5 linked regions of the Homo sapiens genome follow. The protein of the gene in region 3 interacts with the protein of the main gene of each other region in a pairwise test. Each region holds a gene or a part of one and is shown on either strand. Other genes may lie near its edges. The genes, in order: NCAPH2, RBBP8NL, EGLN3, CTBP2 and IKZF3.

Region 1 (5,654 bases), on a different chromosome or scaffold from region 3:
CAGCACAGCGGCTCCCTCCACAAGGCGCCAGAGGCTGACAGACTCCAGCAGGAAGATCCCCGACACAGAGAAGAAAAGGGAACCTCAGGGGTAGGAAAGGCAGAGATAAAATGCTGAGGTCTCCATCCTCTGAGCAGAGAACTCAGGAAACAGTTACAGGTGAGTCGCCATCCTTCCTCTGCTCCCCTCAGCCTCCCGGAGCCCCAGCTCCTCTGTCACCCCTTAAACGTCAGTGCGCCAGGCGCTCCACCCCCCGCCATGCACATTCCTTCATCCCATGCCCAAGCTGCCAACCATAAGCCAATGAGCCCCAAACCCAACCCGACCAGCTCTCTCTCCTTAGCTCTGGGGCTGCATTCATAGCTGTCCACAGAGTACATTCAAATGTCCCCAAACACTTTACTTCCATACTTTACCCAACATCTTCCCCAACGCTGGCTCATCTCCTGTATTCCTTCTCAGCAAATGACACTTTAAAAAAAAAAAAAAAAAAAAGGCCGGGTGCGGTGGCTCACACCTGTAATCCCAGCACTTTGGGAGGCCGAGGCGGGCAGATCATGAGGTCAGGAGATCGAGACCATCCTGGCTAACACGGTGAAACCTCGTCTCTACTAAAAATACAAAAAATTAGCTGGGCGTGGTGGCGGGCGCCTGTAGTCCCAGCTACTCGGGAGGCTGAGGCAGGAGAATGGCATGAACCTGGGAGGCGGAGCTTGCAGTGAGCCGAGATCGCGCCACTGCACTCCAGCCTGGGCGACAGAGCGAGACTCCGTCTCAAAAAAAAAATGTTTTTGTAGAGACAGGGTTTCTCTATGTTGCCCAGGTTGGTCTCAAACTCCTGGCCTCCAGTGATCCTCCTGCCTCAGCCTCCCAAAGCACTGGGATCACAGGCATGCACCACCGTGCCCAGCCACAAACGACACTTTGAAGCCCCTAGGTGTCTTTCCAGCTCTTCAATTTTGCATTTCCATCTGCCTGGAACACCGACCCCCAGCTGTCCCCACGCAAACTCTTTTTCAGAGCCCCTCCATTCCTGGGGCCTCTGTGCCGCTCCCTTAGTGTGATCGTGTCCCTTAGTGAACTGTGTGAGCAGCATTAGTGTAATTCCAGCCTTCTGTTCAGTGCCTGACACTGGTGTCCAGTAAATATTTGATGAACACATGCATAGATAATGTCAAAGCTAAGCCTGAAAAACGCAGAGGCTCACCAGACAGATGAAGGGAACGTGAAGGCAGCTAGCAGAGACTGGACACGTCTCTTCAGGAAAATGAGCATGATCTAAACATGGCCAAAGCATGGCGCGTGCTGGGGAGAGGCAAGATTTTAGGCACCATGGTAGCACGAAGGAGTGGCAGAGGCTGGGAAGCCATCCCCAAGGGGAGTCACTTCCATTAGCTCTTGAAGGATAAAGGGTGTTTGTCAGATCTGGGAGGAAGGGAGAGGAAACAGCAGCATGGTCGTCTACGGAGTGTAAGGACCTCGGGGGTGTTCAGGACCTGAAGAGCTGGTCCAGAAAGAAGGGAACATGGAGGAGATGGCGGCCTGGAAGCTGAGCTGCAGAAGTGGCCCTTCTCTCCAGTGACCCTCAGCCTGGCTGGCTTGCCCACTCCCAAGACACTACTGGGCTTCACTTGTCTTCTCACCTCCCCAGGTTGGACCTGCCATCTGAGCCCAAACCCACATGTTCAGCTGCCTTCTTCAAACATCGCTTGGATGGCTTCACCAAGATTCATACTGAATGCATCCACACTGAACTCCAAATAGCCCCCAACCCACCTGCCCAGAAACCCAGGGGTTCCTCTCCACAGTCACCCCCATTCTGGCCCCACCACCTCCCCTTTCACCTCTGCACTGACAGGGCTCCTCCTGCCCTTCACTCCCCTCCCGTCCACTCTCCACGCTCTGCTCAGTGCCTCTGTTTAGGATTTTGGGTTTTTCCTAACAGTGGCAGGAAAAACCCAAAATCCTAAACGGAGCCAGAGGGAGGCCTCCATGCTGGCCAGCCTCCCTCTCCAGCTGCCTGCCCTCCTCTGCTCTATGGTCCCAACTTGGAACCTTCTGTTTTGTTTTGTTTTGTTTTGTTTGAGACGGAGTCTCACTCTGTCACCCAAGCTGGAATGCAGGGGCGCAATCTCAGCTCACTGCAACCTCCGCCTCCTGGGTTCAAGTAATTCTCCCTGCCTAAGCTTCCTGAGTAGCTGGGATTATAGGCGCCCGGCTAATTTTTGTAAAAACTCCAATCCTTCCAACACCAGGTTTCCTCCACCTGGAGCTAAACATTCTTTAGCTCACCATAAATAAGTAACTGCTTTCATCTCAAACAAACTAAGCCCCCCAAACTCTCCACAGGACCATACATTTTCTTTCAAATCCCTTATAAGTTTCTGGTGATTTTTTCGGTTGGTTGGTTGGTTTTGGTTTTTGTTTTTGAGACAGTCTCTCGCTCTGTTGTCCAGGCTGGAGTGCAGTGGCACAATCTCGGCTCACTGCAACCCCTGCCTCCCAGGTTCAAGTGATTTTCCTGCCTCAGCCTCCCAAGTAACTGGGACTACAGGCATGCACCACCATACCTGGCTAATTTTTTTTGTACTTTTAGCAGAGACAGGTTTTCACCATGCTGGTCAGACTCATCTCGAACTCCTGACCTCAAATGATCCTCCTGCCTCGGCCTCCCAAAGTGCTAGCATTACAGGCGTAAGCCACCTCGGCCTCCCTAAGTGCTGGGATCACAGGCGTGAGCCACCTCGGCCTCCCTAAGTGCTGGGATCACAGGCGTGAGCCACCTCGGCCCCCCAAAGTGCTGGGATCACAGGCGTGAGCCACCTCGGCTCCCCAAAGTGCTGGGATCACAGGCGTGAGCCACCTTGGCCCCCCAAACTGCTGGGATCACAGGCGTGAGCCACCTTGGCCCCCCAAAGTGCTGGGATCACAGGCGTTAGCCACCTCGCCTGGCCATCAGTTTCTGACTACACAAAGTCACACGCAGGGGTGGAGGCTGGATTCTGATCTGCCAGGAACCACTATCATTCAGAGTACATCTCTAACGCCTCTACTAACAAGGTTTTTGTGAGGACTCTGCATTCATATGTGTAAAGCACATAAAACAGGTGCTTAACACAAGTAAACACCAAATGCATATTTATTACACCCCCATGCGGTTACTCTCTTGGACCCGTCTTCCCATGACAGAGGAAGTCCTACCATAGTGGGGATTATCATTTGCTTTGCTTGGCACTATTTTTTCAAAGTTTAACATGGTTCTTGGCACACAATTCACAACTAACAACAATGAATAAATAAATGGATAAAAGAGAGTAGGATCATGACAGTACTAGAAGAACATTCTGGCCAGTGCAATGGCTCACACCTATAATCCCAGCACTCTGGGAGGCCAAGGCAGGTGGATCACTTGAGCTTGGGAGTTTGAGAACAGCCTGGGCAACACAGTGACACCCCATCTCTACCAAAAATACAAAAAATTAGCCAGGTGCGGTGGCACATGCCTGCAGTCCCAGCTACTTGGGAGATGGGAGGATCACTTGAGCCTGGGAGATCGAGGCTGCAGTGAGCCATGATTGCACCACTGCACTCTAGCCTGGGCAACAGGGCAAGAACCTATCTAAAAAAAAAAAACAAAAAAAAAAAAACAAAGGACAAAAAAAAGAAAAAGAACATCATGGTAGTGTGTGGAAAATGACAGAAGGAAAAAGATAATACTAGAAACCAGGAAATCAGGACTTCAAGCTGCAGAGGTTTGGAAGAGCAGACATAAGAAAGCAGGAAGGGAGCTGACCAAGCCAGGAAGGAGATTTACCAAGTGAACAGGTGTCCTCATGGACCCTGCTTGATGTGAAAACCTGAATCCACAGGAGCTCTGCCCAGCACAGTTCCCCGTATTTTCTCAGCCAACTATGCATGAGAGCAGAGAAGTTTGGTCATCAGATCACATGTGCATTTAACAAACACTTTAACGTCCACACCTATGTGCCAGGCACTCTACTAAGCAGACAAAAGAGGGCATAAGTATGGTCCCTGCCCTGGCAGAATTCACATTCTAGGGTGGAGACAGGCCACAAACAGGTAAATGAGTTGAAGAATGGCTTGTGGCCAGTCGCAGTGGCTCACACCTGCAATCCCAGCACTTTCAAAGGATGAGGTGGGCGGATCACGAGGTCAAGAGTTCAAGACCAGCCTGGCCAACATGGTGAAACCCCATCTCTACTAAAAATACAAAAATTAGCTGGGGCCAGGCACGGTGGCTCACACCTGTAATCCCAGCATTTTGGGAGGCCGAGGCGGGTGGATCACGAGGTCAGGAGACCAAGACCATCCTGGCTAACATGGTGAAACCCTGTCTCTACTGAAAAATACAAAAAAATTAGCCAGGCGTGGTGGCGGGCGCCTGTAATCCCAGCTACTGAGGAGGCTGAAGTAGGAGAATGGCGCGAACCCAGGAGATGGAGCTTGCAGTGAGCCGAGATTGTGCCACTGCACTCCAACTTGGGCCACAGGGCAAGACTCTGTCTCAAGAAAAAAAAAAAAATTAGCCAGGCGTGGTGGCAGGCGCCTGTAATCCCGGCTACTCAAGAGGCTGAGGCAGGATCGGACGCGGTGGCTCAGGCCTGTAATCCCAGCACTTTGGGAGGCCGAGGCGGGTGGATCATGAGGTCAGGAGATCGAGACCATCCTGGCTAACACGGTGAAACCCCGTCTCTACTAAAAAAATACAAAAAATTAGCCGGGCGTGGTGGCGGGTGCCAGTAGTCCCAGCTACTCGGGAGGCTGAGGCAGGAGAATGGTGTGAACCCAGGAGGTGGAGCTTGCAGTGAGCCGAGATTGCACCACTGCACTCCAGCCTGGGCGACAGAGTGAGACTCCGTCTCAAAAAAAAAAAAAAAAAAAAAAGAGGCTGAGGCAGGAGAACTGCTTGAACCCAGAAGGTGGAGGCTGCAGCAAGCTGAGATTGCACCACTGCACTCCAGCCTGGGTGACAGAGTGAGACTCCATCTCAAAAAAAAAACATATAAATAAATAAAATTTTTTTTGGCTGGGCGCGGTGGCTCATGCCTGTAATCCCAGCACTTTGGGACACCGACACGGGCGGATCACCAGGTCAGGAGATCGAGACCATCCTGGCTAACACGGTAAAACCCCGTCTCTACTAAAAATACAAAACATTAGCCGGGTGTGGTGGCAGGTGCCTGTAGTCCCAGCTACTCGGGAAGCTGAGGCAGGAAAATGGCGTGAACCCAGAAGGCAGAGCTTGCAGTGAGCTGAGATCATGCCACTGCACTCCAGCCTGGGCGACAGAGTAAGACTCCATCTCAAAAAAAAAAAAAATTTAAATGGTTTATGATAAACATTCTAAAGTGTGTAAGGTGCTGAGATGGAGAGGACTATTTTAGATAGGGTGGTCAGCTGACATTTACACTAAGACCTTAAGAATGAAAAGGACTCAGTCAGCCAGGCGTGGTGGCTCACGTCTGTAATCCCAGCACTTTGGAAAGAGGCAGAGCTGGCTGGATCACCTGAGGTCAGGAGTTTGAGACCAGCCTGGCCAATGTGGCGAAACCCATCTCTACTAAAAATACAAAAATTAACTGGACGTGGTGGTGCATGCCTGTAATCCCAGCTACTCGGGAGGCCAAGGCAGG
Region 2 (6,092 bases), on a different chromosome or scaffold from region 3:
GATGCAGAGGGACCCCTCCTTGTGAGGCAGGGCTCCCCACAGGCAGTGAGCCCAGAGCTCACATTCATACCTGGAGGCTGCAAGTTCAAAATCAAGGCACCAACTTGTTCCACGTCCGGAGAGGACTCACTTCCCGGTTCATAGACGGCACCATCTCGGGTCCTCACATGGTGGAAGGGGCAAGGGACCTCCCTGGAGCCGCTTGTAGAAGGACACTGATCCCCCAGCAGAGCTGCAGCCTCACGAACTTGCCATCTCCCAGAAGCCCCGCCTCCTAACATCATTGCCTGGGGCGTTAGGATTTCAACGAGAATCTGGGGTAGACACAAAAAACATCCAGACCACAGCACAAAGCAGCTACACATGTCCACGCACACATGTGCACACACACACGTGCAACACATGCACACACAGGCACACACATGTAAGACATGCACACACATTCGTATCCCCACACACACACACACACACACGTGCACACAGTCCCCACACAGGCACACACAAAACACACGCCAGCAGCAAGCAGACCCCACTCACAAAGGGCCCAGCCAGGAACAGGGAGGTGGCCGGAGGAGGGGCCTCCACGAAGTTCCCAGGCCAGCCAGAGCTGGAGTGGCCCATGCTGACCACAACCCCCTCCCAAGAGCCTGGTCCTGAGTGGGAGGGCATCGTGGGGCCAGAGATGACCCAGCCCTCATCCCAAACCCAGAGCTGGCCACCAGCCACCAGCAGGGGCCCTGCCAGGGAGCAGGAAGTCCGTCCTCCCCTCGCGGCAGCGGCTACAGGCCAGGCTCCCAGGCTTCCTCCTCTGAGCCCCGTGCATTCCTGGGGTACTCGGGTGCGCTGGGGATCATGGCCCCAAGGACTCGGGAACCCCCGCTCTGCTTCCGTGCAGAGCTAAGACAGGCTGAGGATGAGGCAGAGGCGGAGGTGGAGGCGGGGAGGAGGGAGTGGGGAGGGGTCGTGGGTAGGACACAGGGGGCAAGGCATGAGGGGGTCAGGGCTGTACCCCGCAGCCACAGTGTTGCTGTCCAGGGAACACACACGAGACCACAGTGTGAGGCTGCTCCAGCACCTGGGCCGTGCCACCCGGGGCCAGGCCAGCCCCCAGCCTATTTGCCCCCCTGGGCTCCACCTGGCCGGGGGCACCCAGCCTACCTGGAGACTGGAGAAGCCCACTCACAAGCACTCACAGACCCCGGGCAGACTGCGCAGACCAGAGGCCCAGCATGCGCCCAGTCCCCCTCAAGCAGAAGGCCTGCTTCCCCAGGCAGGGCGGGGCAGGCTGGGCGGGTCGCTTCCCATAGCAGCTGCTGGATTTCTGTCCACTGGGTTCTGGCAGGGACAGCTCTTGAGCTTATTATCCCCAATTTACAGACAGGGAAACCGAGGCCAGAAAGGGGACTGTCACCTACCTATGGTCAGCCCACGGTGAGCTGAGCTGTGAACAGCAGGAAGGACCACTCTGTGTCAGAGGCCCTACCACCTGTCCCGAGGTGGCGAGACAGCACATTTGCTCACTCCCACCTGCAGCCCCCGACCCAGGCACCCCTGCAAGCCCCCCACCCTTCCCCGCCCGGGCCCTCCGTGTCACAGGCACCAAACTGGATTCTCAGTGCTAACCAGCTTGGCTCCTGCAGCCCAGCCTCACAGTGATTATGAGGAAACAATCCCAACTCTATGTGGCTTCAGACCCAACCTGTCCGGCCACTTTCTGCGAGATGGCAGAACCCGCCTGGCGGCTCAGGGCAGTCTCTGCCTCCTTTCTGCTCCTGGCTGGGAGAATCGAAAACCTGTCAAGCGGGTTTGGCCAAAATCCTGTCTTGTTGCCTGTGCAGGTTCACAGCCCGCTCACTTCTCTCTCCCTGTGAAGAGCGTGGGGGACTCCGCGCAGAGGTCGACAGAGGTTGAGGCAGGGCCAGGAGCCATGTGAGTACCCGGGACCCCGGGGCCAGGCCACCCAAGTAGCCGGGTGAGCTGGGATCCCTGGCTGGGGTGCTCACCAGGGAGGCTGGAGGCCCAGCTTGGACTCCTGCGAGGAGAGCCGCGGGGGTGGGTGGGACTGGACGTCTTCCCTAAGGGGTGGCACAAGGCTGCTCCTGGTCCAGGGACCTAGCAACGGAGAGAGCTCAGTGGGCGTTCCTGGCAGGAGCTGGGTGCAAAGAGGCCAGGCCTAGTCTGGCACCAGGGCCCAGGAAGTGTCCATGGTCTGCTGAGGGGCTTGGGGCATCAGGGACAGGCTGGTGGCCTCGCCCTCCACCCTGGGCCTGTCCCGCCCCACCATCCAGGTTCACAAGAGGATAAGCGGGCGCAGCCACAGGGGTGAGGGTGGTGCAGGGGTGCAGCACCCGCAGCTGGGCACTGAGCAGGGGACTCCTCTGCCGCTGTGTCTGTGGGGAAGCAGCCACAAAGGCGGGCCTTGCTCAACCCCCTCCCCCACGGGCCAGGCCTCAGGGAGCCAGCCGGCAGGGCAGGAGAGCAGCCCGGCCCACCTCCACCTCCGGGAGGGAGTCAGGTTGCAGGGCTGCTGTGCCTGAGCTGCAGGGACACCTCGGCTGGCTCCTCTGTTTATGTGTACACACGAGTGCACGGGCGCACGCGCGTGTGGGGTACACGAGTGCATGTGCACACACAACATGCGTGTGCAGCTGTCCCGGGGGCCCTGCGGCGGTGTGTGCACAGGAGCCTGGGTCAGGGCTCACCACCAACATCTGTTCTACAGTCACAGAAACTGAGGCACGGCCAGACAAGCGACCTGGCCGAAGTCTCCATGGGAGAGGCTTTGCCCATTACCACAGAGGGTGGGAGGAGACTCTGAGGCCATGTCCAGGTCCAAATCTTGCTCCACCTGCTCATCTCTGATCTGCTTCAAGCCTCAGTGTCCAAACCTGTAGAATGAGACAATCAGCACTTCCTCCAAGGCCAGGTGGGCCCCGGCCACATGCATGTGCCCAACCTAGCTATGCAGTGGGTGTTCCACAGGGGCAGCCAGGAGGTGGACAGGGGCAGGGGAATCCCTTGGGGAGAAGCGGGTCAAGGTGCAGAGGGCACCACTCTGAGCTTGGCTTCCTCAGCAAAGCTGCAGGATGGTTTCAGTGCCCATGCAAGTGGGAAAAAGCCTGGTGTGGTGCTTGACACAGAACAGTATGTGATCAACAGCAGCCACTGCCACTGCCACTGCTAATGCCACTGCCACTGCCGCTGCCGCTGCTTCCACTGCCACTGTCACCACTGCCACTGCTACTGCTACCACTGCCACTGCCACTGCTAATGCCACTGCCACTGCCGCTGCCGCTGCTACTTCCACTGCCACTGTCACCACTGCCACTGCTACTGCTACCACTGCCACTGCCACTGCTAATGCCACTGCCGCTGCCACTGCCACTGCCACTCCCACTGCCACTGCTACTGCCACTGCCACTGCTATGCCACTCCCACTGCCACTGCTACTGCTACTGTCACTGCCACTGCTATGCCACTGCCACTGCTATGCCACTGCCACTGCCACTGCTACTGCTGTGGCCATCACCGTTGCTCCTGGATAGGTGGGCAGTCAGTCAGATGGACATACAGACAGCCCAGGCCTCAGAGACGGAGGGTACCAGTGTCCAGCTCCGCACTCCTGCCCCAAAGAGCCTGCTGGGGGTCGGTGGCTGGGGTGGAGAGCAGCCGGCCTGGCAGACGTCCTTGGAGCACTGGTGCCCAGGCGGCTTCTCTGGTTGAGTGCCCTCGGAGAGGCGGGGAGCCCAGTGATGCCCCGGATGCCTCCTGCTCAGACAGCAGAGGAGCTCAGGGGGCCCGGCCTCCCAGAGGACAGGGTAAGAACAGGCATCACTGTGGGTTTTGGCACTCGGCCGGACAATGTCCAGTCCTGCCAGGGCCACAGCTGGGCCTGTGATTCCCTGGCCTGTGTGTGGGAGGCAGGTGGCATCTCCCCTGGGTGTAGCCACAGAGATGCCGTGAGCCCATTGGAGTCCGTAGTGAGCAGCCGTCCAAGGATGAGTGTCATCACCGTCAGAAGCCGGACCTCTGCCCTGAGCGTGGGGAGGGCTGCGTCCTCCTGCACAAGGCCTTTGTGGCAATGAGACTTGACCTTGTCCAAGCACAGAGGGTCCTGCCGTCAGCACTGCTGGACACCTGGGGTCCCACATGAGGGAGGCGCAGGTCATGAGGGAGGCGCAGGTGAATCGGGGTCTCCCTCGGCTGCTCACTGAGCGCTCCTGTCTACGGAGCTCCTGGCCACACAGGCATTACCTGTGAGGAGCTTCTAAGCAGCCTGATACAGGGGCAGGGGTGCTGTCACCCCCAGGTGAGGAAACAGGCTCAGAGAGGAAAAGCAACTTGCCCAAGGCCGCATAGAGAGCAGAGATGGGTCCGAGAGCCCCACCAGGGCTGCTGACTGGGAAGCCCACACCTTTACCCTCCGCCCAGACTGACTCTCCAGCCAGCACCCTTCAGGAATGCGACCCCTGCCCCGCCCCAGCCAGCTCAGCGGGTGGGGGGGGTGCACCCTCTCTGCTGGGGCTCTGAGAATGCGTGAGGTAGGATTAACAACAGCAAACCTCTGCCCCCTCTGAGTGGCCACTCCAGAGTGCCCTGGGAGAGTGGGTGGAGACCCTAGGAGGGCAGGTGCAGGCTCTGGGGGGCCTTTAGAGGGAGGTGGGAGTCCTGAGGGACAGGCAGGGCCCACAGTGCATGTCCATTCCCTGGATGAGGACATGAGGTGGAAGGTGGTCTGCCAGCCTCAGGCTCCCCATGGAGGGCTCTCCTGGGCCCTGTCCGGGGGATAAGAGGCACCCGTTTACTGGATGGGCTCTGTTCCGTTCTGGTGAGAGCAGCACGTCGCCCCTTGGTTTTAAGGAGCAGTCCCCCGAAGGCAAAGGTGCTGGCACCAGTAGCACCTCACTGCAGGAGGCGGAGCTGCCGGCCTGGGTTAGCTGAAGCCCAGCCCGGCTCTCACTAGCTTTGACCGTGGGCAAGACGCCACCTCTGGGTCGTGTTCTCAGTGGCAAAATGGAGCAGAGGGCAAGGCATGGTGGGGTGAGAGTGGTGTCGAGGGGGACAGACATGCGCCCCTCACACCTGCCCCCCCCACGGCCCAGCTGCAAGCAGCAGGTGGGACAGCGGCTCACTAGCCTGCCCTCCCCTTCCCCCACTCCTTCCAGGGGGCTCAGCACCCACAGAGACCCTCCAGCCTGGACTCCCGAGTGGGAGGGTCTGGGAGTGGGAGGAGTGGCTGAGGGTGACCCTGGACCAGAGCTCAGCTCTCTCACCCCAGCCCTGTGAAGCCCCCCATGAGCCTCAGCCCAGCCCCTCCCCGCCCCGGTAGGCTTGCTCCCCCATCACAGCCCCACTGCAGCCCCCACCCAGGCCTGGAGGAGACCCTCCTTCCGAGTTCCCCCAGCCCCAGCACCCCTAGCTGCCCTTGGCAAGCCCAACAAACCCAGAGAAGGCTGACTCGGGAAGAAAAAGCCAGCCCCACTGACCCCGCTGCTGACCCCTGGCTCAAGGCTGCGGGTGCGGGTCTGGGTGAATTTCTACAATCCTGGTTCATTTCTTCTCCCCAAAAGCACCAAGGCTTGCAACTTCCCTCCACCTCCCATCCCTTCCCCGGAGCTCTCCAGCACTCTAGGAGTGCTGCAGGTGGTTTCGGGCACAGAAAGGATCCTGTGAGTGGGAGGCACAGCAGAGGCTCCGTCCCAGCCTCTGCACCACAGTGACTTCACTGGGAAGGAAGCCCACCTCTCGTGTGGACCCCAGAGACCTCTCCCAGGCCCGCAGGCACCATGGGCTCCCTTGGGCGGCTCCTTTATGGGCGTCGGCCCAGCCCACATGGCAGATGCTGGGGGCCAGGGAAGAGTGGCCTGTTGGGCGGGTCTGGGGGGAGTTTCAGGAGCTGCAGCTCCGCCCCCTCCTGGCCCTCCTCAGCTGCTTGAGCCCAGGGAGGCCCCGGCTCTGACATCTTCCTCCCAGGGGCCCCCTTGGCCAGGAAAAGCCAGTGCAGCTGGGTGCACCAGAGCCATGGGGAGGACGCCCCAGTCCACACAGGCAGAGCATGCAGACCCACAGCCCCAGGAGCTGGGCACAACCCA
Region 3 (5,654 bases):
ACTTAGCTAGAGATATCTCCTTATTCACCTTAAACCAAAAAAAGCACTCCCACCCCCCACAGTCATAAAGCCCATGGACGTAAAATAGAGTACTATTAGATTGAATCATACCGATTTGCCAATATTTGAGTGTTTTTGACTTAAAAAAAAATGCCCAGTGATCTCACATGGTTCCATCTAACCATTAACAACTTTCTAAGAAAATCATCACATGTAACTTCCCCTTCAATTAGAATTTACAGCTCTTCTGAACTCCCTTAGCTCCTATCTGACCTCATTAGTTGGAAGTTACATGCTCTTTTTACTGAACTCTCAGACCACCTAATCTGCACCTTTTATGACATACACCACTCTCTTCCTTGAATTATTTTTTTTACATGTCAACCTATTTCATCCTACTAGAATAACCATATTCAGAGTAAAGTTCAGGCCTCACACATCAATGTTTCTTCATAATACAACGCCTGACACTAGCAGGAACTCAAATATTTGTTAAATGATTCCAGACCTTGCAATTTATTATTACCAGTCTGATAACTTTATTCTCTTGTCTCTATCAGCACCTCTCAAGATTTTAAAGGAGACTTAATGGATGTATTCCAGTCATGTTACCAAACAGGGAGAAGAGATAGGCCTTTTCACTGATTCAATGGTTTCCCAAGTTTCGTTTTTCTGACTCTGGATAAATATTATTGCTTTATGACAGCCAGTATTTGCCTAATGAACAGGAAATTGAGATGCAGAAGGTTCAAAAGCCAAATAAGCTTGAAAAGTTATCTGACTTCCCAGACTCCTAAATCATTCTTAACTTTCGGAAAGCATACAGAGTCCAGATGAATGTCTGTAAGCATGGAACCAGGCTTCATATCTCCATCTATCTATAAGTTCTATAATACAAAAATAAGCCACAAAGCCTTTGGCATTCACAAACCATAGTAAGCCATGGCAAGCAGCCATCAATGAGACATACCACCCCGAGGGAGAGGACTGTGTGGGAAATCTCTCTTGGGGATGGTTTTATAGCCTACAGTTCTATTTTTGTGGAACTTTCTCAATGCTGCTGCTGGGAGGGAAAAGTGTATATCCTATTCTGCATTGAGTCAGAACAACTCTGAATTAAACTGAAAAAAATTAATCCTTAATCCTAATATCAAATTACCTTCCCTTCATCAACCACCCTTCCCAGAGGTAGGGTTAATAATCACCCTACCTACCCCACTCCAAATTAACTTCATTGTTTTCTTCTTAACAACTTTAGGACTAATTCCATTGTCGCAGGAGGTTATGAAATGGAAATAGAAATGTTTCATCAGTGGGAGATACGGCAACTATGAACTCAATATAAACTCTCCTCTAAGTTATCTGAATCATTTTCCTGTAGTTTCTAACCCCACACTCTACTCCCATTATTCAAAAGTACCTTGGCATCCCAATTCTTGTTCAGATAGTAGATGCAGGTGATGCAGCGACCATCACCGTTGGGGTTGTCCACGTGGCGAACATAACCTGTTCCATTTCCCGGATAGCAAGCCACCATTGCCTATGGAGAAATCCCAAGAAAGCTGGTTAACAAAGCTGAGACAGACAATCTTCTCCTCCCACTGGTGAGCAGATAAGTAACACAGTCTCCTTGGGTGTTACGTGACATTTACAGGTAGTTGCTGGCTTCTTAATTTCATGTATGGTACATAAATTTGGACTCTTCTGTGCACAATGGCCAGGTCATACTATGGCTCTGCCCAGTGGAAAGTAGTTCAACAATATTCCCACAGTTCTAGAACATTTTACACAGTCTTTCTTAAAGTAACCTATCTGCATGCCCTGTTTGCATAACCTGTTTGTATGCCCTGCCTTTCTTCAATACTCCTTTTTGGAAAAGCAGTTTCTAGTTTCCCATGCTACAAAATCAGAGTCACTAGGTGTGGAGTTTAGGGATTATGACTGTTTAGCAAGTGCTGCTGAATCACTCACACTGTTTCAGAACAATGGCTAAAGGTATTTGCATACACAAAGTGACAGAACTAATCACCAAAGGAGGAAAAGGTCAGGCTTACTCAATAAAATGCTCAGGATAGAAAGAATAGAGGAAGATCAATAGGAAGCCGCACCCTAACTTGTTAACACAGACAACACAGGGAGATTCCTTTCAGGAAAAAAGCCATGCATGTATCTTAATATGTGTCTTCTTCCTGATAATTATGTAATCAGGTGATAATCTGAAGTTCTCTTTGTCTAAGTGCTACCTGTATCAACCAGGTGGAAGAATAAAGTAGAAAACCGTACCAAAAATCCTACTGAAAATTACCATTAGAGTAAACAGACCTCTAATTGTTCCAAGGGAAAAATTATAACACAGAGTGGGGAGGGGGAAGAAAGCAAAGTATAGAAAGCCAGTTCTTTTCTTCACAGGATACCGCCATGTTTGAAAAATATTTTTTATAGGGATGCAGTAGGTGCAAGGAAAATATTAGAACCAGCAACACAAGATGAGGACAGGGATTTTTTTTCCTGTTCTACTCACTGATGTATTCTTAGCACCTAGGACAGTGCCTGACATACAGAAGGTGTCCATCTAAAATGTGATAAATAAATCAATGAACTAGCGAATGGCTCTTTCTCTAAAGAGTAAGTTCACATTTTACCTAGATCAATAGCTATTTCTGTCATTTTAAAAGACCTATCTTCAAACATACATGTAAAGATCCAGGCCATATATTTCCTGATAAATGGCAGCGTTGCTTCATTGGTAAAATGACCGTTTGAGTAGAGCCCCAAGCTAATGGGCTAGTGGTTCAATGAATCAGCTTCAACGTGGCTGCCGAGTCACTCTCAATAGTAGCATGAAAACACGGAACTAGGCAAAACACACCTTGCATGCCAGATCAATAATAAGGCTGAATAGTAACTGGACTTTACAACAATTTTAAAGCTTAAATCACCATCTCTCTCAAACTTCATATCCTCATGCAGCAAACAATCCCCATATCCTGCCTTTGAACATCAAAATGTCAATGTGATGTCATCCTTAGAGCTCAAGTTAGGCTGTTAGCTTGAACATCTTTCAGAAGGTGAAACTGTGAGGCGACGTCAGCAATGAAGATTTAACAAATGATGGTACCACTAAGCAAAGCATGGCTTGAGGAAGGGTGATTGGTAGCAAACAGAATTGATGGGCCTAGCAAGAGAAGAAGAGACAAATAAAGTCACCTATAATGACTAAAGAATTACCCACCCCTGGAAGCAGCTATTAGGATTATAAGAGCCACCACAGAGCCAATAATGAAAGTCGCTTAAGCCACAAACAATTACAGGCTGGATTCCCTATTATCTCAGGCTCCCCCCACTGAGTGTGTCTGAAAAGAAAAAGTATGACATCAATGCTATAATCTTATATGCTTAAACAGCTCTTCTCTAAGGAAAAGGTCAGTGGTCTGGATGCCTGCCATAGTTCACTCTGCAACTAACTGTGATCCCAGGCTGTCTCTTTCCTATAAAGAGGGGATTGGGTTACGCAGCTGTCAAAGGCCCAAGAAGATCTAAGACTTGATCTAAGCATCAACCCTTGAAAAAGCAACATAGTTCTTCAGGTCATTAAGGAGTGTTTCTCTGCCTCAGAACTCAGCTCAGATTAAAATATTGAAAAAAAAAAAAAAGATGGATACAAACTCACAAAAGTAAATCCTCTACCAAATGCCGCATCTATAAAACACACAGAGACAAAGCCAATTCCAGAGGACTTACTATTAGGACAAAACCCCTACATGTCAGCAAAGTATCCGACTGCTTAAGAGGGAGGCAAAGAGATAATTTTTCTGGCCAGAGTGAACATTCACCCTCTCTCCTGGTTCCAGAAACCACATGCATCAAGTTGGAAACAATGGAAGGAAATCATTTCGAGCATCAGTGGGCCAGTTGAGGCTACATTTGGCCAATTTTATCAGTGTGTTTTCTGGATGAGTGCCATAGGAGATGGGTCTTTGCTTGGGCACATTCCCAACTATTTGCTCGTCTTTGACAGGGTCTAAAACCATGAGGCTAAGGATGCACCGAGAAGCAAGCCTGACTTCAATAACTAGCCATTCACTTCTGTGCCAATTTGTGCACGGGGCAGTAACAAACTCCGGAAACAGATCAGTCCAACTGAGTTGCTATCTAAACCTCATCAAGCCGGGGAAGGGATTTAGTGTTTAACAGAAGAGAAGTCTTCAATGCTTTATTGTTAAAAGAACGGGCCAGAGTAATTTAATGATCATATAACAAACATGCCAAGCAATAAACTGACACATATCAAGAGGATGCCTACTTTAGTACAGGCTTTTTATTTTCTAAAACTTCCTGACTAGATTAATATTTGAAGTTTACGCAAGTTTAACACAGTAGTGTCATCTACAGCAGCACATACAGTATAGTCCTATAGTTCTATTCTTGGATATACTGATAAATCCACATGTCCCCTTACACATTTACCGCTCTGTCCACTGACATTATATAGTGTACCCACCCCACCTCCCACCATCCCCATTCCCAGAGGCCTCTCCTTAGCTCTGTAGCAATAGGAAATGAGTGGAGAGGTGAATCAGGCCGGCCCAGGCTGGCTCTAGACCAGAATATGTGCTCTAGACACGTATGCAGCCATGTCCAGACAACAAACGTATATGTATCCTTTGAAGATATACACAGATATATAGAACCGTAACAGTCAAAACCCAGTATAAAAAAGTGGTCCCCAAATGCCACAGGTGGAAAAGGAAACAGTGGTTCTGTTAAGAGTTACCAGTGAGCTGACTTCATAAAAAAAAAAAAAAAACCTATCTCATCAAGTCCAAAGGTAAAGTTGAAAAATAAAAGTCCAGGATTTCCATTCCAATGCCTAAACAGAATGCTCTTGAATGCCATCAACCGCAGCTTGACTGCATGTAAAAACCATTTCAAAAACTTGGCATCAGTGACCTCCACCATCCACTAGGCAATGATGATCATTTTTCAGACCCACAGGTGAGAAGGGGATACACCCACCCTGCCGTTACCACTTCTCTGCTAACAGTTGCAACATGTATTTTCATAGAAATGTATTTTACATTGCTCATGATTTGAGACAGATTCACTAGTATGACTCGATCTTGAACAAGTTATAATAAAGTGGCATTTTATACAAAATTTAACTCACCAAATTAAAGTACTAATTAGATCTCATTTTATTTGCAAAATTTCCAATAAATGAAAATCCATTGTTTAAGATTTGTTGAGAAAAGCGTGATTTCAAAACTATCTGGTTGAAGGAGCTTTAAACTAGTATTCTGATCTACCGACAAATGCTAGATCCCCTCCAGCTGCTAAGTAGAAATACCAGCCAACCTTTGTAAGGATTCATTTTGAATTAAGCATGGTCTTGAGCAAAGCGTACTTTGAATAAAATGCAACCTAAGTACGGGATAATCTGCATTTAGCTCATTTACACCTTGGTTTCTTCATCTGTAAAATGGGTTTATGCAGACTCAGGGAGATAATCCATGTAAAATGCTTAATGCACGGCCTGGCACACACTAAGTGCTTAATAAATGTTAGCTATTTTTAAAGATGATGTGTTATGTTTGTCTTCCCCTCAACTGAAGCTGTAGAACGTCTCTTCTTCAGAGACCCAATTCTACTTAAGT
Region 4 (5,654 bases), on a different chromosome or scaffold from region 3:
TTCCCTCAACCGTTCCTGGGACATGGCTTTAAGAGCTCTCTCGGGCCCTGCCCGCTGCTGGCGCTGGCTGTACTCCAGGTGGGCAGGCCTGGGAGCTGGCTGCAGCAACACCAAGTGGGGTGTCCAGGATCCAGATGGATTTGCAAGCACTGCCCCCACCCGTTCCCTTGGTCTCCCTGGACCTGAACAAGCAGCGGATAAGCCGACTGTGTTTGCACTTCTAGACTGCACGAAAGACCATCCATCAGCAAAATAATAAACTCACAGCTAGAGCTCATTTAAAAGGAAAGGTGCACAAACTCCTGGCCTTTCACCCCCTCCAGCAGAGAAACCTCGAATGCTCTGTTTTCCCCTCCAAACTCTTCTCCTCTCATTTCCCCTCTCCACCCTCCCGCTGCCACACACACACCTGCGGCAGGTACAATACTATCACTTCCAGGTTAGATTCTGGCCACTTACACCATAAAATGATTCTTTGCTAGCCTCATTTTATAGATGAGATTTTTAAATTCCATCTTGGAAAAAGAAAAGCCCCATTAGGCCAGAGGAGTTGATCTCCCTCCACGGTCTAGGTCTTCGGTTCCTTCCAGAGAAACTTCCTCAGGTTCCATGACTCCATAATAAAGTTTTTGTTTGTCCTGGGACGGGACAGATTGCTGGAGGCCAGATTTCAGGCATGGCTGGAGCACAGCCACGATAAGCTGGACTTTACAAGCCCTGAGCTTGCTTGTGCTGCAGGAAGACCTACACACACTGTCTCTGTGACACATCCTTTAACGTGGCCCTTCCAGGCTTCTGCCACAACGTGGGCTGGAATGAGACACAGAAATATTGCCACTATTTCCAGACAATCTTTAAGGCAGCTGACAGTTTCTTTTAGTCATAATTAAGGATTTGTTTTAATGCAAGAAGCACATTTCTGCTGATCAGAGGAGAGCTTTGGAGGAAGCACAAATCAGCAATACAATGGAAGGTAAGTATTTTTGTATTTTATAAATGAGAAGGATTTTTAGAACCCCACGGATGAAAAGCCCAGCCCTCCCTCTCCCCCCTCACCCCTGCCTCCAGGGCTTTTCTGGACTCACAGAAGGCAACAAAACCAAAGGCAAGGCTGGCCACCACCAGGATCAGGGGCAGACAACAGCAGCTATTCAGGGTTCCCATCCTTTAAACACCAACCGATCTTTGGGAAAAACGAAGTCTCTATTATTACCTAGGACAAAAGTCACAATTCTCTATAGAAACAAAATCATCACTTGTCCCATTCATAAGATCCCAACCATTTCATCACAATTTTTGTGAATATTAAGCCAACTCTAGGCAACCATCTGTTAAATTTAGTTAGGTAAACAGCTAAAGCAGATCACTTTCTAAAACATTCACTGAGGGAGGGACTAGGCATATACACATGCAAACTACAACTGGTTCTCACCGAGTGTCGTTGCTAAAAAAACTGAACAGGCTTCAGACACCAACAATGGTTAATGATCTACATATTATCTACATATTCCACTTAAGGTGAGGGTTAGAAAGTGAGGGGCCAGGAATGCACCTCCCTTAAGCTACAGAGTTGGTTCCACTTTGGGACCTCGGCTCCCACGTGGAAGGAGAAGGGCTTTGTGAATGGGGGAGGAGCTTTTTCCGAAATGGCAGCAGCTACGCAAAACATGAACATCCAGCAAAAACTTATTTTAGCTGCATTCTCCCTAATGCTACCAACAGATTAAAAACTACTTTAAAGTCAGGAGAGGAGTAAAAATAAACACAACTTCCTCCTGTGACTTAAGATGCCTCCTTTCTGAAGTTGAATATCATTTCCTAAAATCACATTTCGAGGGGGTAGAAAAGGTCTGTTTACTTTCCTTGAGGAACTCTTACTATCTGCCGTTAAAATCGTTCCTCAAAAAAGCAGATTACTGAGAAGAGAAAGCACACGACGTTCCTTAGCAGTCCAGAAAAGACCACCTTCTAAGAAAAACTCTGGAAAGGGGGCAGGCCAAATCTCCATGCCCGGCAAAGACGGATGAATGTGCCCCTGGTTCCCATCCCGTCCACAGCTCCTGAAGTTTCTGTGTTCTCCAGCAGTCAGAAGAATGAAGGCGAAACTAGCCCTTGGCTCCCATGGTCAACATTCCACACAAACAATGGCCTGGCTCTCTCCCTATTGTACATTCTGTATTCATTTGTGAATCCCCCCTTTTTTTTTTTACACAATGTGCAAAGCCCTTCTTTTCACAGGCGAAGTTCTGAATGCCCAAGTGCAGCCATAATTTAGGCTTTAAACATTAATAATGATAGCTAAAAGCAAACTCCAGATTATGCCCAAACATTAATTTGTGAATATCATTAGAGTCACACTGATGGCTTTTGGATACTCTCCATTAAATCATGATCAAAAGGGCCACTGAACACCTTTAAAATGGTTCTTAAGTTTTTAGCAATTATTAAATATAATTTTCCAAACCCCAAGATAGGATTAAAAAAAAAAAAACTCTTTCATAAGTCTTTGATACATATTCCATCAAACACAGACTTGAATGAAAATTAACTTCAAAAGATGAGGTGGGGAGGAGAAGCCTTGCATTTTCCCTTCTTTCCAGGAGTGCTGTAACTTTAACTTGCAGCAGCGTAAATTAAGACATGCTTACCAGCTGTAAGGGAGAAAACTGATATCTGCCAGGCCGCACAGTCTCTAAAAGTGTATCCATTCCAGCATTTCATGTGCCCACTAAAAGTTTTCAGCAGGGTAAGTTCACACAAGCATTCCTCCCCTAGCAATTCATAGAAAGATTGCTGGGGAAAAGACACCCCGAGATTTCACCACATGGGTCACTTCCATTAAGTACAAATACTTCTTTTTCCAGGGACAGACACACTGCCCTCCCATTTTTTAGTTACTACAAAAATATGTTCCACCCTGTGTAACAGACCTACCATCCCAAAGTGGAAATATTACCTGAGCTGTGCCCTGCCCAACTGATAAATTTCCCTTCCCAACCATGTGCTGTATGAATATATATTTGTGGCCTGATTCAGGGCCACAGGACACTAGGGCTGCTGCTTTTCCCTGATAGATTAACAGAGGGACCCAGGCTGCATGCACATACATTATGATGACAGCCCCTCTCTATGGAAATGACAGTGGTAAAAAAATGACAACTGGGGCTGCCATTCTACCATTGCTGTAAACTCTTTAAATTTTTTCCATTTAGGGAAAGCGTTAAGTGCAAAGGGTATAACTTTGCTTTCAAAAATGATTCATGATGTTAGTGAACTGTTGGCAAATGGCATTCTGGTGCTAGATCTCAGCAGGGCTACTCCCTCACTCAGAGGTGTCCTTTTCGGTTTTTTTTCAATCCGTGAATCTCAAGGATTTCAAATAGTGTGAGCTGTTTGTATTTTAACAGCAATGGTAACAATAAAAATATCATTTTAAAATCCAGTGCACTGCTTGTTCAGTACATACTATATATATTCATCATTTCTTTGCCTTGTAGCTGGCTACTCAGAAACTAAAAAGTTGTAGGTTGATTTTCTGGTTTTGTTGTTTGTTGTTGCTGTTTGTTTGTTTCATTTAATCTCTCTTTGAAACATTTTCCAGACTTAAAAAGTAAAATTTCTGGAGTTTTAAAAGTTAAGACTGAAGTTATTGATTATTCTCTGAAAGGGTAACTGACAAACTAGTTAATAATTATACAGATAGCAAGTTTTACCGTTTCATCTTGTGTACACGACCAGATTAACAATGGCAGGGAAAGCACACACAACTTGGCAGGGACAGGAACAGGTGTGCCCCGACTCTCAAAAGGCCAAAATATCTCACCAAGTATGTCACTGGCGTGTTTTTTACAATGGCAGTAGTGTTTGTTTTTAACTAGCCAAACGTTCTTACTTTCTTAACTTTAGAGAGATGTACTTTACGAATATCTTTCTCTTCACGGAATTGATGATTCAGTTCCACACATAAATTGCAACTCGTGCAAGGAAATGATTTTTAGGGACAATGAGGCTTTTTAAAATCAGTTAAGAAAAGGTAATTCACCCTGCCCCTCCCCGCAGGAGAACACCCATTCAAGGGTCAGTTTCAAAGCTCCCAGGCGAAACCGTAAATAACTCACAGGGTTCTGCATTCAACCTGCAGACTCTTATTAAGGTACAATTAGAGAGGGGGTTGTCAGGTGGGGGTTAAAAAAAAAAAAAGAGCGGGGGGGAGTCGGTATTCTTTACCTTATCTTTCTGAACAGGAAAAAGAATTAAACCCAAACCACCTAGTCAGGTTCAAAACAAGCTCCAAACCCAAGATCTTTTAATTCCCTCTAATAACTGCTTTCCACAGGGATGTAACTGGGGTCCCCTACCCCTGGGGCACAAAAAACCAATCAGCGCCATAAATTCCCTTTGCCTTCAACCCTCTCTCCCTTTTACAGGGGGGCAGGGTAGGGGGAGGGGGTGACCCAACATCAACACTTACACTCTACAGAAATATGCTGGCTTATTTCCTTTGTTTGCTCATGTTATACTTGATCAAGTGTGAACGATTAAACTGGTTTCATTAAAGGCAAGTGCATTCACGGCTAACATCCAACTTCAATGGCAACTGTAAGCATATTTTGCAAGAAAGAGGGCCTGTTTTTTTGCTTGAAATCTACCATCTCATTAACTTTTCTTTTGGGGGCAATAAAAAGGGCACTAGGGGTTTTTCAGGAGAATGTCAGAGCAGTTCAGAGATCTGATGCCAGACAAAAGAATATTTAGCGTTTCAACTCTACGATACAGTCTCTGCTAAAGAAAAAAATTCTGTTTCAACATTAAAGCAGCTATGACTGAAAATGTCTAATTAGCATTTTGACTATTACTTTATAATTGCTGTAAGAAGTATCCTTTGAAATCAAGTGATTACAAAAACAAGATCCTTTAAAGTCTCATTACTTCAAAATAGAAAAGATTTATATTTAAAAAAAAAGGGGGGGGTTAAAAACCTCAGAATTCTCAAAGTACATGAAAACTACCCACTTCTACTTGGAAAACCCTCGAGGCAAAACAGCAATCTTAGGTACTGAACACGAGGTAATTTTTAAACTGTCTTCGAACCCAAACACCTAGTAGAGAAAGCTATCTTTTTTGAAAGGGTGGTATGAGTCGATATATTTCGCCCAAGTTAGAAAGGCAGAAAGAATCACTTTGTAAACTTCCCCAAAATATAACGTCCCCTCAAAATTATCCATGTCAGATAAAAATATACCAGTCTCTAGAATATCCAACAGAATTGCAAATAAGGCGTTTAGCATTTTAAATTCCCAATGCATATTTATAGAATAGAATTCTCTTGTCTATCCTTCCAGCCACTCGCATCAGACTCTCTAAGAACTTAACCCGATCTCCAATCTTTAAAGAAAAAAGGGGGTAAATACACAGAAGGATTGTTTACCCCGGACAGGGCAAGGAAGCCCGGTATGACGACGTAGGCCATTGCCAGCAGCCTCCACCACGAGCACGCAGAGCGGGGATTTCTACGAAAAATTCCTCCTCTTCCCTATAAAATCCTAAACGTGGGGTCCTCTGCAGCCAACTGCCGCTTGGGCCGCCTCCGGAAAAAGTACCGGGCGGGGGGAGGGGGGACAACCACAAACACTCGCGCGCACACGCTCACTCCG
Region 5 (5,654 bases), on a different chromosome or scaffold from region 3:
ACTAATGAAAAAGTGTTGAGAAAGACAAAAGGAAAAGTAATTCTTTCATATAACCTAAGGAGTCACTTTCATCGACACAGGTAAGTGGGGCTCAATCTAAATAAGGGGAAGGACCATTAGGTCCCAAGTTAGGGAGAACTAAACTCAAGGACTCAAGGATTGTGTAATAGGACTGGATAGGAGAGGAGGGACTGGCTCAAGTGAGTTGGCTGACCAAGTACTATCTTAAGAACTGCAATGTAAATGAATGAAATTTAAAAGAAGAGCTGTAATACTCTTCATGAAGAGCATAAGAACATATGAAGAACGTGGGAAAAATATGAAGAACATAAGAAACAAAGAAGGCAAATTTATGTACTTGCACTGACACTAGTAAAACCTAAAAATTTGCCTGATGTAAGAATAATAAACATTTGTAAGGGATTTTGCATATATAAAATATGCTATATAAATGCTTACTTTTTCAACCATTGGTCCTTAGAAATCAAAAGTTGTACCTCCCCATGAGGAATCACAAATCAATGGAGTGTAGGGCTGGAAGGGAATTTAAAGGTCATCTAATCCAACCCTCTTGTTTCTCAGATGAGGAAATCTGGGAGCAGAGATGTTTTTGGTCATTTGTCGAAGGTTACACATCCAGTTACTGGCAGAGGTGTGATTAGAATGCAAAACTTAAGCTTGAACTATCAATTACTTGGATTTGACCTCATGCACTAGACATATAAGGCCTAAGTGGGTTCTTACCAACTGTATTACACACCCTCCCATCAATGGTGTAAATGTTAAAACCCAAAACAGTCTGAAAAAAGATATTTTAAAAAACTACATCCCTTCCAAAAAACATCAGTAAGTGTTGCTCCTCTTGCTGCATAGGAGGAAGTACAACTGCAGCTGTGCCTGGCTTGCTACCTTCAACCCAAGTTTCAATTTTCACTTCTATCAAGGTTACCTTTCATCTATATTAACTGTGTTTGCTTAATAGAGCAAGACAGGGCCTAACCACCATCAGAGGAGCCAGGGCTGCCACACAGTTCCACTGCTTCCTACCACAGTTCATGGTTCACAACTTTTCACTCTTTGACTAGCAAAGATGTAGGGCTGTAGGATAAGTCCAACATGTTTCAAATTTGCCCACCCTATGGATCTGGATTATATAAGAAATGATATCTGTTTCCTACTTGGAAAGAGGTTTACTTCTTTCTCTGGATAGGTCTTCCCTGCTTTCAAGTGGAATTTGTTTGCTTAAGTGTTTATTTTTTATTTTTTTAAGAGAAGGATGCACCTGAGGCTTGTACTTGCCTCCCTTCCTCCATCACTCCAGCTGTGGGTAATATCCCACCAAAGCTTGAGTGCTCTTCAGTTTGCATGTAGGCGTTTAAAAGAACCTCAACGGAAAATTTCAGCTACTTAAAACCAAAAACAGCAGATAGAAAAGGCCAGCAGAAAAGGATCCTTTCCATTTTGGTTAGAAAATGTGAACATGACCAGACTCAGGCCACTCCATGGTCACTGAACTTTAAAATGTAGTAAGATCAATGTGTTGAGTCTTTCTGAAAACAGAGGACATAAGAGAGCTGCTCCTTTCCCTCAGGATTTTGGCTTTAGTTGGCCTGACCTGGAATTCAATACGACACCATCCTGGCTCAAGAGCAGATCTTAGCTTTAGTCCTTTAGGAGTCAGCTATAGAGCAAGGAAGACAGTATTTGAGACCCAGGGACATAAGGACACAGGGACAGGGCATTAGAGAAGTCCTTTGGGCTTACATAGTTGCTGGTTTGCCTTTGGAGTCTTACCAGTTTTAGATGAATGACCTGGATGACCTCTCTGCATGGTTACTGGGGATTAGCAACTTATTTTTATTTTATTCTATTTTATTTTTTGAGACATAGTCTTGCTCTGTTGCCCAGCCTGGAGTGTAGTGGCACGATCAGCTCACTGCCACCTCTGCTTCCCAGGTTCAAGTGATTCTCCTGCCTCAGCCTCCCGAGTAGCTGGGATTACAGGCATGCACCACAATGCCTGGCTGATTTTTGTGTTTTTAGTAAAGACGGGGTTTCGCCATGTTGGCCAGGCTGGTCTCGAACTCCTGACCTCAAGTGATCCACCCTCCTTGGCCTCCCAAAGTGCTGGGATTACAGGCCTGAGCCACCGTGTCCAACCAGATTCTAATTTATTCTAATATTCAACTCTGTTACCTTCTCAAGGTAAGCCATAATAAATTGCTGGCTGGGCATAGTGGCTCATGCCTGTAATCTCAGCACTTTGGGAGGCCAAGGCAGGTGGATCACTTGAGGTCAGGAGTTTGAGACCAGCCTGGTCAACATAGCAAAACCCCGTCTCCACTAAAAATATAGAAAATTAGCTGGGCATGGTGGCTCCCAGCTACTGGGGAGGCTGAGGCAGGATAATCGCTTCAACCTGGGAGGTGGAGGTTGCAGTGACCCGAGATCGTACCACTGCACTCCAGCCTGGGCGACAGAGCGAGACGCCATCTCAAAAAAGATAAAATAAAATAAAATAAATTAGAATTTAAGGTATGAATGAGATTCCTGAGAGATATTAGGCTTAGTACTCAGCCTCCAAACACAGTCCACCAAAACCAGGAAAGGCATTAGCCTGCTCTAATGAAGAGATTCATCCCATTCCCTGGAAGACTTATTGAAGCAGAGAAAAGGGGTGTTCTACTTAGAAAAATTCTATTAGAAAATACTAATGAACATGTCTAAAATCAAACTTGTCATCTTTGAACCCAAACTTGCTTCTAATTTATGACTTATTTATGTTGACAAATGGCATCACCCTTCTTCCAGTCTCCAAGCCATCAAACTGTGGAACCTTTTCTCTTTCAATTTCTACATCAAGTCAGTCTCCAAGATCTATCAACTCTATGTCTTCAGGCTCTCTAGGTGCCAACTCCTCTTTTCCTTTCCTTTTGCAATTTGGTTTCACCTTTCATCACATCATACCTAAATTCATCCTCTCTCAACATTCCTTTCTTTTTTTTTTTTTTTTGAGTCAGAGTCTCACTCTGTTGCCCAGGCTGGAGAGCAGTGGTGTGATCTCGGCTCACTGCAACCTCTGCCTCCCTGGTTCAAGCGATTCTCCTGCCTCAGCCTCCTGAGTAGCTGGGATTACAGGTGCCCACCACCACACCTGGCTATTTTTTTAATTTTTTTTTTTTAGTAGAGACGGGGTTTCACCATCTTGGCCAGGCTGGTCTTGAACTCCTGACCTCGTGATCCACCCACCTCGGCCTCCCAAACTGCTGGGATTACAGGAGTGAGCCACTGCGCTCGGCCTCAACATTCCTTTCTAGACAGATTTAAGACACAGGTGGTCCAGGAGCGGTGGCTCACACCTGTAATTCCAGCACTTTGGGAGGCCGAGGCGGGTGGATCATGAGGTCAGGAGATCGAGACCATCCTGACTAACATGGTGAAACCCCATCTCTACTAAAAATACAAAAAAATTAGCCAGGCGTGGTGGTGTGCGCCTATAGTCCCAGCTACTCAAGAGGCTGAGGCAGGAGAATCGCTTGAACCTGGGAAGTGGAGGTTGCAGTGAGCTGAGATCCCACCACTGCACTCCAGCTTGGGTGACAAAGTGAGACTCCGTCTCAAGAAAAAAAAAAAAAGACATAGGTAAGCTATGCTTACTGCCTCTACAGCCTCAAAAAGGACTCAGAATTCTCTGTAATATGGCTTCCGCCTCCACAATTCACTTAATCTGCTCCCTTGAATATCACCAACCATAATCTCCTGATTCCTAGATTCAGAGCCTTTTTGTATGCCACTCTCTCCAACTTCTTTGTAATCCTCAACACTACTGACCACTCACCATTCCTTGTTCTTCTGCACTCCTATGTCTTTTCTTTCTTTCTTTTTTTTTTTTTTTGAGACAGAGTCTCACTCTGTTGCCCAGGCTAGAGTACAGTGGTGCGATCTCGGCTCACTGCAACCTCTGCTTCCCAGGTCCAAGCGATTCTCCTGCCTCAGCCTCCCGAGTAGCTGGGACTATAGGCACGTGCCACCACACCTGGCTAATTTCTGTATTTTTAGTAGAGACAGGGTTTTACCATGTTGGCCAGGCTGGTCTCGAACTCCTGACTTCAGGTGATCCACCTGTCTTGGCCTCCCAAAGTGTTGGGATTACAGGCATGAGCCACCGTGCCCGGCCCCTGCACTCCTATTTCTTCAATGAAAATGTACCTTCTTTCCTTGCCTTTCTGATTGCTTCCTTCTTGCCCCTTTTCTTCCCTCTGCATCCTAAATACTGTCCTTAACCTTCTTTTTTCTTCCCTCTACACCCCTCTTGTATGGCAATTTCATTCATTCTTAAGGCTTCGACTAACATCTTATATGATTAATTTCCATATATATAACTCCAGGTGTAACCTCTCTCCCTTTCTTTAGTCCTCTATTTCTGAAGGCTTCCTAGGTATCTTCCCAGTTACTCAGGCTAGAATCCTTAGAGTCATCTTTCCTTTCTCCTGATTGGGCCCCACATTCAATCATTCAGTGGTTCTATCTGTGTATCCAATCTCTAATCTGTTTCTCCACTCCTGTATTTTGCATGCCCATTACCTAATTCTCAGACCCTATGACTTTCCCACGATCTACTTATTGCTGTAGCCCCCGCACTGTTCTCTTTGGCTCCCTTCTTTCTCCTTTCCAGCCCGTCTTGTTTGTTGCTACAAGATTGCTCTTCCTAAATTCTACCTCTGGTCATGTCATAGCCCTGTCAAAATTCTTCAATATTTTCCACTGCCAACAAAATAAAGTCCAAACTCAGAAACAAATAATTTAAAAGGCCTTTCGGGATCTGGCCCCAACCTATCTTTGGCATATTAATTTTGACTAGTTAGATCTTTAACTAAAGAGCTTCTAAGTAGTCTTATTTCTACTGCCTAAAAGATCTTTCCCCAATATGGCCACAGGTCCAAGTCCTACACATCCTACGTATTTTTTTTTTTTTTTTGAGACGGAGTCTTTCTCTGTCTCTCAGGCTGGAGTGCAGTGGTGCGATCTCTGCTCACTGCAACTTCTGCCTCCCGGGTTCATGCCATTCTCTTGGCTCAGCCTCCTGAGTAGCTGGGACTACAGGCGCCCACCACCATACCCAGCTAATTTTTTGTATTTTTAGTAGAGACAGGGTTTCACTGTGTTAGCCAGGATGGTCTCAATCTCCTGACCTCGTGATCCGCCGGCCTCGGCCTCCCAAAGTGCTGGGATTACAGGCATGAGCCACTGCGCCTGGCCACTGTCCTACACATTTTTAAAGGTCAAACTAATATGCTGTCTCCTGGCTACTATGCCTTCTCTGATCAACCCAGCTGGAAAATAGCCTGCTCCTTCTTCCTGGGTTACTTATGAACTCACCTCCCCTAGTCTCCCCAATAAATATGTAAACTAGCTGAGGGCAGAAGCTATACAGATTGTGTGTGTGTGTGCGTGTGTGTGTGTGTGTGTGTGTGTTTAACTCAGTATTCCCTATGACACTGCTTAACCTGTATCTGTAAGACCAGAGGTTATGTGGTTTTAAAATAGAAAATTTGGGGCTCCTACCATAGATCTACTAATCTGGGGGTGGAGACTGGAAATGTTCATTTAAAACCATGCTCTCCAGATAAACCTTATGCACAATGGAGTTTGAG

What was found.
Region 1: the proteins of EGLN3 (region 3) and NCAPH2 interact in binary tests that used the Homo sapiens proteins (3 or more experiments, as listed by UniProt).
Region 2: the proteins of EGLN3 (region 3) and RBBP8NL interact in binary tests that used the Homo sapiens proteins (3 or more experiments, as listed by UniProt).
Region 4: the proteins of EGLN3 (region 3) and CTBP2 interact in binary tests that used the Homo sapiens proteins (3 or more experiments, as listed by UniProt).
Region 5: the proteins of EGLN3 (region 3) and IKZF3 interact in binary tests that used the Homo sapiens proteins (3 or more experiments, as listed by UniProt).

Annotation. Positions count from the first base shown.
Region 1 is NC_000022.11:50,510,537-50,516,190, reverse strand, and holds part of NCAPH2 (condensin-2 complex subunit H2), read right to left. Parts: intron 472-5,654; exon of another isoform or gene 444-471; coding exon of another isoform or gene 417-443; intron 1-416. UniProt on the Homo sapiens protein: Regulatory subunit of the condensin-2 complex, a complex that seems to provide chromosomes with an additional level of organization and rigidity and in establishing mitotic chromosome architecture.
Region 2 is NC_000020.11:62,423,297-62,429,388, reverse strand, and holds the start of RBBP8NL (RBBP8 N-terminal-like protein), read left to right. Parts: upstream 1-1,849; 5' UTR 1,850-1,929; intron 1,930-6,092.
Region 3 is NC_000014.9:33,929,676-33,935,329, forward strand, and holds part of EGLN3 (prolyl hydroxylase EGLN3), read right to left. Parts: intron 1,541-5,654; coding exon 1,421-1,540; intron 1-1,420. UniProt on the Homo sapiens protein: Prolyl hydroxylase that mediates hydroxylation of proline residues in target proteins, such as PKM, TELO2, ATF4 and HIF1A. Target proteins are preferentially recognized via a LXXLAP motif.
Region 4 is NC_000010.11:125,153,207-125,158,860, forward strand, and holds part of CTBP2 (C-terminal-binding protein 2), read right to left. Parts: intron 5,572-5,654; exon of another isoform or gene 5,429-5,571; intron 1-5,428. UniProt on the Homo sapiens protein: Corepressor targeting diverse transcription regulators. Functions in brown adipose tissue (BAT) differentiation. Isoform 2 probably acts as a scaffold for specialized synapses.
Region 5 is NC_000017.11:39,793,546-39,799,199, forward strand, and holds part of IKZF3 (zinc finger protein Aiolos), read right to left. Parts: intron 1-5,654. UniProt on the Homo sapiens protein: Transcription factor that plays an important role in the regulation of lymphocyte differentiation. Plays an essential role in regulation of B-cell differentiation, proliferation and maturation to an effector state.